Linked DNA regions of Homo sapiens. The protein of the gene in region 1 interacts with the protein of each later gene in a biochemical or structural test. Each region holds a gene or a part of one and is shown on either strand. Other genes may lie near its edges.

Region 1 (3,753 bases):
TCAGGAGTTGGAGACCAGCCTGACCAAAGTGGAGAAACCCCCGTCTCTACTAAAAATACAAAATTTGTAATCCCAGCACTTGGGGAGGCCAAGGCGGGCGGATCACAAGCTCAGGAGATCAAGACCATCCTGGCTAACATGGTGAAACCCCGTCTCTACTAAAAATATAAAAAATTAGTCAGGTGTGGTGGCGGGCGCCTGTAGTCCCAGCTACTTGGGAGGCTGAGGCAGGAGAATGGCGTGAACCCAGGAGGTGAAGCTTGCAGTGAGCCAAGATCGCACCATTGCACTCCAGCCTGGGCGACAGAGCAAGACTCCGTCTCAAAAAAAATAAAATACAAAACAAAATTAGCCAGGCATGGTAGCACATGCCTGTAGTCCCAGCTACTTGAGAGACTAGGGCGGGAAAGTCACTTGAACCTGGGAAGCGGAGGTTGCAGTGAGCCAAGATCACACCATTGCACTCCAGCCTGGGCAACAAGAGCGAAACTCTGTCTCAAACAACAACAACAACAACAACAACTTTTAGCCTAGAGAGAAAATGAAACAACTGGCATGACGCACTGGGGTCCTGGCTGACCCCAACATGGAGGCTCAGCATCTCAGCGAACCCGCTGCACAGCCTGAGTCTCAGGACACACACAGGGCTCAGGACTCGCTGTGACACTGACAGGTCACTTAGGCTCCCACTCACACCACCAATGCTGGTACAAGCAGGCAAATAAATACAGGTGATCTACACAAGGGAAGATGCTGGACTTGAGCGTTACTCTGACAAGACTTGATTCTGTGCATAGCAACTGAAGATGAGTATGCAGAACTTAGCAAAGATTTTCAAGAGAAAATAATGTAAGGATTACGTAATTCGGGAAATAAAAACCTGAAGGGCAATTTCAACTAAGAATGGCGACTACCTGCTCACCATCTTTTGGAGAACGAAGAAGAAATGAATGGTCTGAACAGACTTAGCCCGACAGAGCTGCCCAATAGAGAGGATGCCAATGTTAAATGACCACAAGAAATGTAACATCTCTTTTTAGGACACCCTAGATAAGAAATCTTCCAACTGGTCCTTCAGGAGAGTGTCTAAGCAGTCTTGGATGAGCTACATCAACAGGTCTGCAGACCACAGAGCCAGCAATCAGGGACCACATTCCATGTAGTACAAAATTTAGAGGTTTCCCCTTTATCAACAAGAGACCCAGGTGCCAGCATGTTACTACCAGATCCAGTTCTTCTTAGGACAGTGTGGCTCAAAGGGATGAGACCTTCCAGACACTGGTATCTGAGCATCTGTGGCCTGCCCCTGAGTTGTCAAGATAATTTCCTTATCTCTGAAGGAGTCCAGACAGGAATGCTTCCACTGCTGGGTGGGTGCTCGCCCCTCTTGCTCCTTAAGCGCCCGGCTCACCCCCTTGCTAGCACAGGGTGTCTTACACAGTTTATGGGACTTTTCTGTGAACTACCTGAGGGCAAGAACCATGTCCCACTCCCTCCTTGCTCCTCAAATATTTTATAGGAAAGCAGTCCACAGTCTCACACAGAGGAAACATGAAGTTTAAGTTCTAGCCCTATGAGGACAACACCTACTTTGATACCAGGCGTCACACTCTACAGCTTTGTTCAAGCTGAGGAGAGTTCTCTTTCCTTATCTGTGTGTTCCTCAGAACACAAAGTGGGACTCCTGCCAAGTCACCCTTGACTTACTGTGAGGCCTTCCTTAGAGAGGCCTCACCCTGCCCGGTACCCCCTGAGTCACAGCAGGGTGGCTCTTGTTTCTCAGAATGACACCACACCCTTCCACATGTGTCCAGTGGGCTGAAGTCTCCTACTCTACCAGCCAGTATGTTTTTAAATCCATTTACAATCTGAATTATTAAACATCCACTGGGTATAGAAGAGTTTCCTAAGATACTGAAGAATTTGAATTGTCTGGGGATTATAGACTGATTTTTAATACAGCAGACTTAACCACTAAGTTATTTCACCCATATTACCCCCTACAACGAAGTACTGGTTGAATCAATCACAGGCTGCCTCATCATCAATCAGGGCTCAAAGCCAGCCTTTCTCTAGGATGTCTTCCTGACCTCAACCCAACCCCAACCCCAATCCCTCCGGCCAACCCAGGTGTGCTGAGCACCACACAACTTCCACTCATTTGGGCACAACGTGGAAAGCAGCACTCTTTAGGCCGACCCACCCGCACACTGAGGAACAGGAGAATTCTGACAGCGGCTGGCCCCACAGTGTGTGCTATGTGCCCAGGACTGTTATGCGTGCGTGACACGTACTCATCTCACCCTACAAGGAAACAGGCAAAGACTGGAGAGAGGATGAAGCCTGCCTGAAGTCACAGAGCTAGGACATGCACACAGGTTATCAACCCAAGGAATCTCAAGCATATTTAACTTTTGCTTCCAAAGATACTTTTAAAAATGAAGAACAAACATGTAACAAGATAAGCAAATGATACACAAGTAAAACCGCTGCTTAAAGAAAAGTAACTTTTAATGACAACAATGTCTTCTAAGTACCCATTTTCACCAGCTACTGCTCTAATTAGCTTTGGTAAATAAATCACTTAGTTGTCTGATACAGAAGCAAAAGTAAACTTTTTTTTCTGATTAGACACAGTGGATACATTTTACAAAACCAAAACTTCAATCTACATTGAATAAATTTAGGTTCTATTGTATGGTTCACAAAATCCATACAAATTATGTATTTTGTGGGAAAAAATGTATTAAACCTGTGAGATTAGTTACTAACTTGGTTTAAAGAAACCTGAATCTTAACTGCCTAATTTGATTCTGTGGTACAAAAATGTCACACAGCAAACCTGCCTTCAAACTAATTGGTGTTAAAAACTGGTTTGCAAAAACAAAAAGTAGCTCTTTCATACGGTTATTCTAAAGCTAAATGGAAGACTGTAAAATGCCCAACAATGGAACAGCTGGTAACGCTCAAAACACAAAACCCCTGGGCTTGCATCTAGGGGGATGTTTACATGGAACCAATCCCACCCTGTTTGCTATTTACTCAATACCCAAATGATGGCAATATAAGCAAGTCCATAGGTAACATGCACTAATTAAGCGCTCGAGAATTATATACTCTAAAAGACACATTAAAAGTCAGCTGCAATCCTTACTGTTTGCGGATAGGATAGGGGGCGTAATCTGTCATAATCTTCTTGTCCAGCTGTATCCCATAAGCCCAGATTCACCGGTTTTCCATCTACCATAACATTGGCAGAATAATTGTCAAAGCTGTAGAATGGAATGAAAATGGTTAGTCACAGGTGTAGAAGCTAAGTCACTGTCCCAGCCATCCTAGAGAAGGTGTGCCAAGAAAAAGGCTGGGGACGGGCCTGGAGGCTGCCACACCAGCAAATGTCCCTGCAGGCACAAGGAGGAAGGCGGCACGGGCAAAACTTGCGGGAAACAAACCAAACCCAACCCAAAACTTAAGAGAAATGAAAGAAACAAACAACAAGCTATTTAAGTGAAACAAATCACCGTCAGAAATAAAAACATTTTACTTTAAACAAAGTTTAAGACTTTTATCCCCAGAAGAAATAAGGGTACAATTAGCCCCGCTTTCAAATCCTACTTGTTGGGTTTTTCATGTACTTATGTTGCTCATTTTCAGCAAGAGAGCTAGCTGGCCACTAGAGCTACCCTCTGCAGGGTTTCCAGAAGGCCTGAGTGTAGAGCAGTCACACAAAATACACCTGACTTAACAAGCCTC
Region 2 (3,753 bases), on another chromosome or scaffold:
GTGTAATTGTCTATGCACATGTCTGTTTCTCCCGGAAACTATAAACCCAAGGGTAGAGGCTATGATTCATCTGTTTATTCAGAACCTATGACAATGCCTGATGCATAATATGTATTTAGCAAATGAATGAACTTTAAATGGCAATAAAATATTACTTTTCATATAATACTTACATAAGACATTTATGCAAAACATTGTTAATATAAGGCAGTGCTTCTCAACTTTGCATATCAGAATCACCTATAAACCTTTCAAAATAGAGATGCCAAGGCAACTCTTTACATCTTCACAAGTAATTCAAGTGCATAGCCGAAATTAAAACCACTGCTACACACAATCATAGTCATAAAATTACAAACTACTCTACCTAACATCTATATAGCTCAGTATCTTACAATTCACTTTTACATATATTATTAATCTTCACAAGAATTCTGTAAGTTAGGTATTATTTCTTTCAAATGAACAAATAGAGATTTAAATAAGTGTCCAAGTAGCTCTTTGTCTAACTTCAAATTTTGTGCTCTTCCTTAAACCCTCCCTTGGTAAGTGCAGTAATACACAAATCAAGGGTTCCACCAGTGAGGAAGACATCAATCTTAGCTTTGTGGGAATCCAGGAGGAAATAAGGAAAGCTGGACCTTAAAGATATAGGCAGGCAGATGAGGGTGGAAGCCATGCATATACTGTCATTGTCATTTGCCATCCCAAAAGATTCAAAAGGCAGATTCTATAAATTAGAAAATGCTCTTGCCAGCCTCAGTTAGTACTTAACAGTCTGAAAGGGAAAGGGATATTGGAGAAGGCTGGAAGTAGAAAAGTAATAAAAGAAAGCAGCCCATAAACAAGAATGGATTTCCCAATCCTGCATGCAAATTACCTAACTCTGACTCCAGGAACAAAAGCCAAGACATAATGGACTTAAGAATTAGATGAATTCTACAGTCAATCAATACCACGAAAACTCATGAGGGATGAATGAACCTCTGGTTCTTTCTAGACTTACTACTACACTATTCCTCAAGAAGGGATAATCCGGAGAAGCCTAGCATATACATGACTTTCCCCATCTCAAAAACTAAAAGAATGGGAGAGAAGAGGAAGATATTCATGAAAGAAAAGGCTTACAAAAAGGGTAGAAAAATGTAGCACATTAAGTTAATAAATTTACGATGGCACAGGGAAATATTCAGGCACAAGTGATTCCAAATACTGGATAAAGCCTGATCTGGCAGCTTCAGTAAAGAGGTATTATCTTCTAAGTCTGCAACATCATGACCATCTGACATAGAGTTTTATCAGCAATTATCCTTTCTAGTTCAAACTGTGGACTTCAGTCAGGGTTTTCTTAGGGAGAAGAAGCTAAAGAGATTAGGAACCAATTTAAAAGAATGTGTCTAGTGCCCCAAAATTTAGTTTGATAGAGTTTAAAAGGCAATATGTTATAGTGGCAAAGTAAAGTACTACACTTAGAATTTTAAAATGTGGTTTAAAATCAATATTCAGGCATTCATTAATGATGTGCCTCTGAGCAAGCCAAGACTTCTATTAATATGATCCTCAGCCTGCTAACTCGTAAAATGGGAATACCTATCTCATAGGGCTGTTACGAAGATTGAACAAAATAACATCCAGGAAAGATGTTATTTTTCCTGTATGAATGATAAATGTAAACGAATGTAAATCTGTCTTCACCAAGCCTTCTAATACACACACAAAAAAAACATACCAAATGGAAACTTTAACTCTCACTGCAATATATTTACTTGCAAAACATTCCTATATCCTCTGTGCAGAAACATTAAAAGCAGCCTCTGTACTGAAAATAGCACATAGCTGCTGGAGTCAGGTGCACATGGACTAGAATTGTTGGTCTGCCACTTACTTGCAGCAAAACCTTAAATAAGCTCCCTTTACTAGTATGACTCTCAGGTTTCCTCACCTATGATACAGAGATACCAGCAATCATCTCATAAGGTTATTCTGAGGGTTAAAAAGAACATGTTAAACATCTCATATAGGGCCTGGTACAGAACAGGTATTCAGTAACATAAGCCATTTTTAGTAAGCTTACCACCACCTAACAACTAACAAGCAAATTATACTTTTCAAAGATTCCTTTATAGTCATTATTTTAATTGCTTCATGATCCTGTAAACTAGTCGTAGCAACTATTACTATCCCCATTTTACAGTTGGGACAAAACACAGAGATAAAAATTACTTCTACAAGGTCATGCAGTAACATAGACACTAAAGAAGGTCTCCTAACTTTTCCAGGGTTTCATTTTCACCCACTACAAATTACAACATTACCCCTTAGAAATTAAAACATCTGTGAAGAGACTTTTTTTTTTTTTTTAATAATGGGCATAGAAAATGACCCAGAAGGAGCAAACACTGGTGTGGGAGAATGTTTTTAAATTTTTTATTTTCAAGTTTGAATATACTGACTATTAATTTTGAATCAATGCATTTTTCCTTTTATTTTTAGTTGATATGTAATAATTGTACATATTTATGATATTTTGAGATGTATATAATTCGTAATAATCAAATCAGGATAATTAGCATATTCATCACTCCAAACATTTATCATTTCTTTATCATAAACAGTCAAAAGCCTCGTTTTTAGATGCATATTGTTTATCGCTTTTCAAAAATAAACAATAAACTGTAGTGAGATGTATTCTTTTGATAACCTTAAACTTGTCTCTTTACTATGCCAAAAAGAAATATTTTTCTCCCACTTTCTGGTTATTATTTAGAAAAATAACATGGAGAGGGATCAGAAAATTCATTAAAACCAGCAACAACAGAATTAATGTCTCAAATTGGCAACTGCTGATTCCACCTTGATTTTTGTTTTAGTTTTCCCCAACAAAGCCCATGACCTCTTAAAATTTTTTAAAAGTCTGCCTGTCAAAATGATGCTTGTTTGACAAATTATTCCTAAACTGAGGGAAACAAATAGAAAGGCAGCTTTCTCCCCCCCTTTATGATCATATACCACCTTTTTTCATCCCTCTATTTCATCTCTTCATTTCAGCACTTATCATGTCATATTATCTCTAGCTCCTTAAAGACTTGGGCTGCACTCTTGTATATAGCTGAACATCCTGCCCAGCACAGGGTCTGGCACATGGTGGAGAAGGACTCATAATTTTATAGTAAACGGATGAATAATTGAAGCCACTCTCCCAGAAGGAAGCTAGGAAAGGAGAAAACTGGGCATGGTATCTTAGGGCTAATAAGAAAGTGAAAGAAACAAAGCATTTTAAGAGCTTGACAAGGAAGAGAAACCTTTGTGTGGAGTCAAACAGGCCCTATATAGCTTTAAGTATCACCAGAGAAAGACAAAAACCACAGGAGACCAGGAAGAGACAGTTTTAAGTTAAAAGACTCAAAAGTTAAGAGTGCTTATTTAGACTTGCAAAACCAACTTGCAAATTCAAAAGAAACAATCCTGGCTTGGAATATTGCAACAGCAGTTTTCAGGTGGTGGTTAAAACAAACAAACGAACAAAAGACTAGGCTAAAAATTCTTGCAGGCTTTGGTTGGAGACACATAAAGGGAAAAGCTCAACCTAAAATGAATCCCCCAAAAATGTTAGGATCCCCTTGGATTTGCACATTGGACCATGATTCCTATTCATTCTGAGAACGGTTCTTGAGTAAAACCCCAATGTCGCAGCTGGCAATACATAGAATTAAATCATCTTACATTATTCATTCAACAAATACTTGAGTGCCT
Region 3 (3,753 bases), on another chromosome or scaffold:
GCTTTCTCAAGGTAACTTAAAATCTGCCTCCTCTGAAATTTCCCCTGACTACAGATGCCAGAGCCAGCTCTTCCTCCCTTAAACTCCTAAAGATCCAGGTTATGTTGTAGTTACTATTTTATACATATGTTTATTATCTCCCCAGCCAGACTGAATTAGAATCCTCTTAGAGAAGGGAAGTAAGTTTTCTATCTCCAAAACAACTACCATTTATTGAGCATATATCACAGTCATTCCTGACAATTTATTCTGGACAATAGTTCTATGAGGCTGCTGTCATTATCTCCATTTTGTAGATGAAGAAACCAAGGGCTCAAGGATATTAGGAAACGTGCCCAAAGTTCACATAGCTGGTAAGGAGCAAAACAAGCTTTCCTCCAGCTAGCTTCATGTAACATGAGATGTATGGAATGAACAGGTACACATCTGGTAGGGGAAAGGTGGTCAGGTCAAATAAGTTAGGAGGATTAACAAAGCTAAATCACTATTTTTACTGAAGGGCTTCTCAAAGCCTTTTAACATGCTGCCAATGTGATTTATAAATTTCCAAAGGGCATATGTTATGTAATTTCCCAAATGTATTTGGGGGCTAAAATCCTTTTCAAAAGGACAATCAGCCTTATAGAACTAAAGAGTTTCATTAAGCTCCTTTCAGGAAATGTGGCAATGTGTTCTGTTGTTTTTGTACAGACCTCTGTACATAGTAGGCACTCAGTACATATTTCTTGAAGAAAACTTACTCCTCATATTAAAGTAACATGCAATCATTCCTCTTACAACAGAATGTCTGAAGTGTAATAATTATTCCACTAAACAGTATTAGAATTTTAGAAATTAATTTCATTAGATAGAATAAAAAGATGAAGAAAAATTTCTACCTGTGCTTTTATGATATGCATGAATCTTGACATCAACTCAGGACATTCAAGGAGAAAGTGAAAGTGGTCAAATATAATTTTGGGATTTCTAAAAGAAAAATATTTTGTTTAAATGGACAGGAAGAATGAGTAGCATTAAGTGAAATGCAAATTCAGATACACTGACACTGAAACAGAAGAAAAACACATAATAATCCATATCTATTAAAGTTTCATTTGTTATTGAGCATATTTTGAATAGTACGAGAAATAGTATTTTTTCTGTTTAGATGAAACTGTAAGTAAAGAGAGGAAAGGCTAGCAGGGTACTCCACAAACCCAGAAAGCTTACCTATTAACAAAGCATTTTAAAACTTCATCATGTTTGCAGACAAATTCAATGAAACGAGGTGAAGTCATTCTGTGGGGGGAAAACATCAATCAGAATACACAGGCAAAAGTTTGTGATATAATATAGCGAACTTGATAAATATATACTGAACTGGACTGGCTTCTAAACCAAAAAAAAAAGAATTTGGTTTTGAATCTTCTTTGTAAGTTTAGGAAACTGAAGTATGCCTAGCCAATTTGTAAAATGATTCTAACTTCTCATCAGCAGACGATATCAACAAGTGACTTTTTAAAAATCTTGAAATTTGGTGCATTTCTGCTCTACACATTTCAAATACATAATTAAGAGATCCTATACAAGGTGACATTCACCATTCTACAAAGTAATAATATATACTGCTTAATATTTAAATATTCCCTACTAGATCTAGATTAGTATGAGTATCTTAAAACAAGGAGAAAACTTTAAATCAACAAATTATTATTTGTTGTTTTTGAAATTACAAAAGTATCACTGCTTTTCATCATCTATCAGAGAAAAAAAAAATAATAAGCCAAAACTTTCTTACCCCGGAGGCATCTGACAAGAACAGCACATGTAAAAAGCTTGAATGACAGCACTTAGCCGGTTAGCTGTCATAGAAATAACATCCTGACAATCTGCACTGGCTTCCTGTCTCCCTGCAAGAGCATCTGGTTTAGATTCCCTTGTGCCAGTGGACAGATTTTCATAGCTCCCAGGTCCTGGAGGTTCAAATGGAGGAATGGAAGCAGCATCTTGATCTTGGCCTTTTTGTTTCAGTAAAATAGAAGTGATCTCTGTTGAGTCTCTTTTGTTTTTCATCAATTCTGTGGCTATTAAAACTAGCCATTCATCTAACGAGTGCCAAAGCAATTCCAGAGGCTGAGAGAAACAAAAGTGTTTTTTAAACATCATTCTTAAACTACAGGATTAAAAAAAAAAAAACAAAACACAACTAGACAAATATTATAGAAGAGAAAATTTACTCTAGTCATTTCTATCTTCCCAAGTTAACGTGATAGTAATGCCTAAAGGTAAGTAATAAAATTATACAAATGCTACATAAATGACAATTTCTTCATTTATGGCAATAATTTAATTTGTATGTATGTATTCCTTGTAATAAAAAGGAAAAACTAAATCTAACAAAAAATTCACAATCTTTCTTCTTTTAATTTTCAAATGTTTAGTTTTAAAAGCACACATTACTACTATATATAATCACCCTTAACATTTACTGTATTAATATGATCAATGTCAACCACTTTCAATTAAACAAATAAGATTTTTTCAGTTAAAAAATGAGAACCCCTAAGTATAATCACTCAACATTTTCTGTATTAATATGATCAATGTCAACAACTTTCAATTAAACAAATGTCTTTTTTCAATTAAAAAATGAGAATCCCTAAAGAACCTAATGAACAGCTTTTTTACTGTGCTCCTTTCATTACATATAATTCCTAGAATTTGGATAATTTTTGACAAGAAATTACAAAATGTGGCATATTTATGTATATACATATACTTACAGACACAATCCATTTCTAATAATTAGTGTTTTTTTAAAACAAGAGATACAATTACCAAACTTCTATTAAAATACTGACTAGCAGGCCGGAGATGGTGGCTCACGCCTGTAATCCCAGCACTTTGGGAGGCCGAGGTGGGTAGATCACTTGAGGTCAGGAATTCGAGATCAGCCTGGCCAACATGGTGAATTGAAATCCCATCTCTACTAAAAATACAAAAAATTAGCCAGACATGGTGGCACACACCTATAATTCCAGCTACTCGGGAGGCTGAGGCAGGACGATCACTTGAACCCAGGAGGCAGAGGTTGCAGTGAGCTAAGATCACACCACTGCACTCCAGCCTGGGTGACAGGGCGAGACTCCATCTCAAAAAAAAAAAAAAAAATACTGAGTAGCAAATTCTTAATTCCAAGTAAAGATTAACACCTTTCTATTAAAAAAAAAAAAGATGAGGAGAGAATAAACTATTTCCTATTATTATTCTAGCTGGGTACACAGGCATGCACTTGTAGTCCCAGTTACTGAGGAGGTTGAAGGGGGAGGATTGCTTGAGTCTCGGAAGTCAAGGCTACAGTGAGCTGTGATCATGTCACTATACTCCAGCCTGGGTGAAAGAGTGAGATACTGTCTCCAAAAAAAAAAAAAAAACAAACAAACAAACAAAAAAAAAAACCTGCTAGGATATTTTTAATCCCAAATAAAGATTAATAGTTTATAAGTGGTACAGTGGTTAAACAATCCCTTCATCCTACACTATTTTAAATATTCTTATTGAGAATGATTAGCTATCCTTCTGCAAATAAATATAAAAGTTTATCTCACTTTTTGAATCTGACATGATTACAGAATGCTACAAACTACACCATGTGCTACAGAAAGACTCACCTTTAAAATATTTCAAGGAAAGAAATAATCTTTCTTTTAAAGACCGCCATGGAAGGAGATTATACAACCATATTTGGAACCTTAGAAAATGTTTGAACTATTC

What was found.
Region 2: the proteins of RAC1 (region 1) and PAK1 form a complex in vitro, tested with the Homo sapiens proteins (17 studies listed by BioGRID and IntAct).
Region 3: of the proteins of RAC1 (region 1) and HACE1, one has a biochemical effect on the other in vitro, tested with the Homo sapiens proteins (5 studies listed by BioGRID and IntAct, with this or other methods).

The regions. Positions count from the first base shown.
Region 1 is NC_000007.14:6,391,443-6,395,195, reverse strand, and holds part of RAC1 (ras-related C3 botulinum toxin substrate 1), read right to left. Parts: intron 3,273-3,753; coding exon 3,155-3,272; intron 1-3,154. UniProt on the Homo sapiens protein: Plasma membrane-associated small GTPase which cycles between active GTP-bound and inactive GDP-bound states.
Region 2 is NC_000011.10:77,467,342-77,471,094, forward strand, and holds part of PAK1 (serine/threonine-protein kinase PAK 1), read right to left. Parts: intron 1-3,753. UniProt on the Homo sapiens protein: Protein kinase involved in intracellular signaling pathways downstream of integrins and receptor-type kinases that plays an important role in cytoskeleton dynamics, in cell adhesion, migration, proliferation, apoptosis, mitosis, and in vesicle-mediated transport processes.
Region 3 is NC_000006.12:104,783,208-104,786,960, forward strand, and holds part of HACE1 (E3 ubiquitin-protein ligase HACE1), read right to left. Parts: intron 2,113-3,753; coding exon 1,778-2,112; intron 1,279-1,777; coding exon 1,210-1,278; intron 967-1,209; coding exon 879-966; intron 1-878. UniProt on the Homo sapiens protein: E3 ubiquitin-protein ligase involved in Golgi membrane fusion and regulation of small GTPases. Acts as a regulator of Golgi membrane dynamics during the cell cycle: recruited to Golgi membrane by Rab proteins and regulates postmitotic Golgi membrane fusion.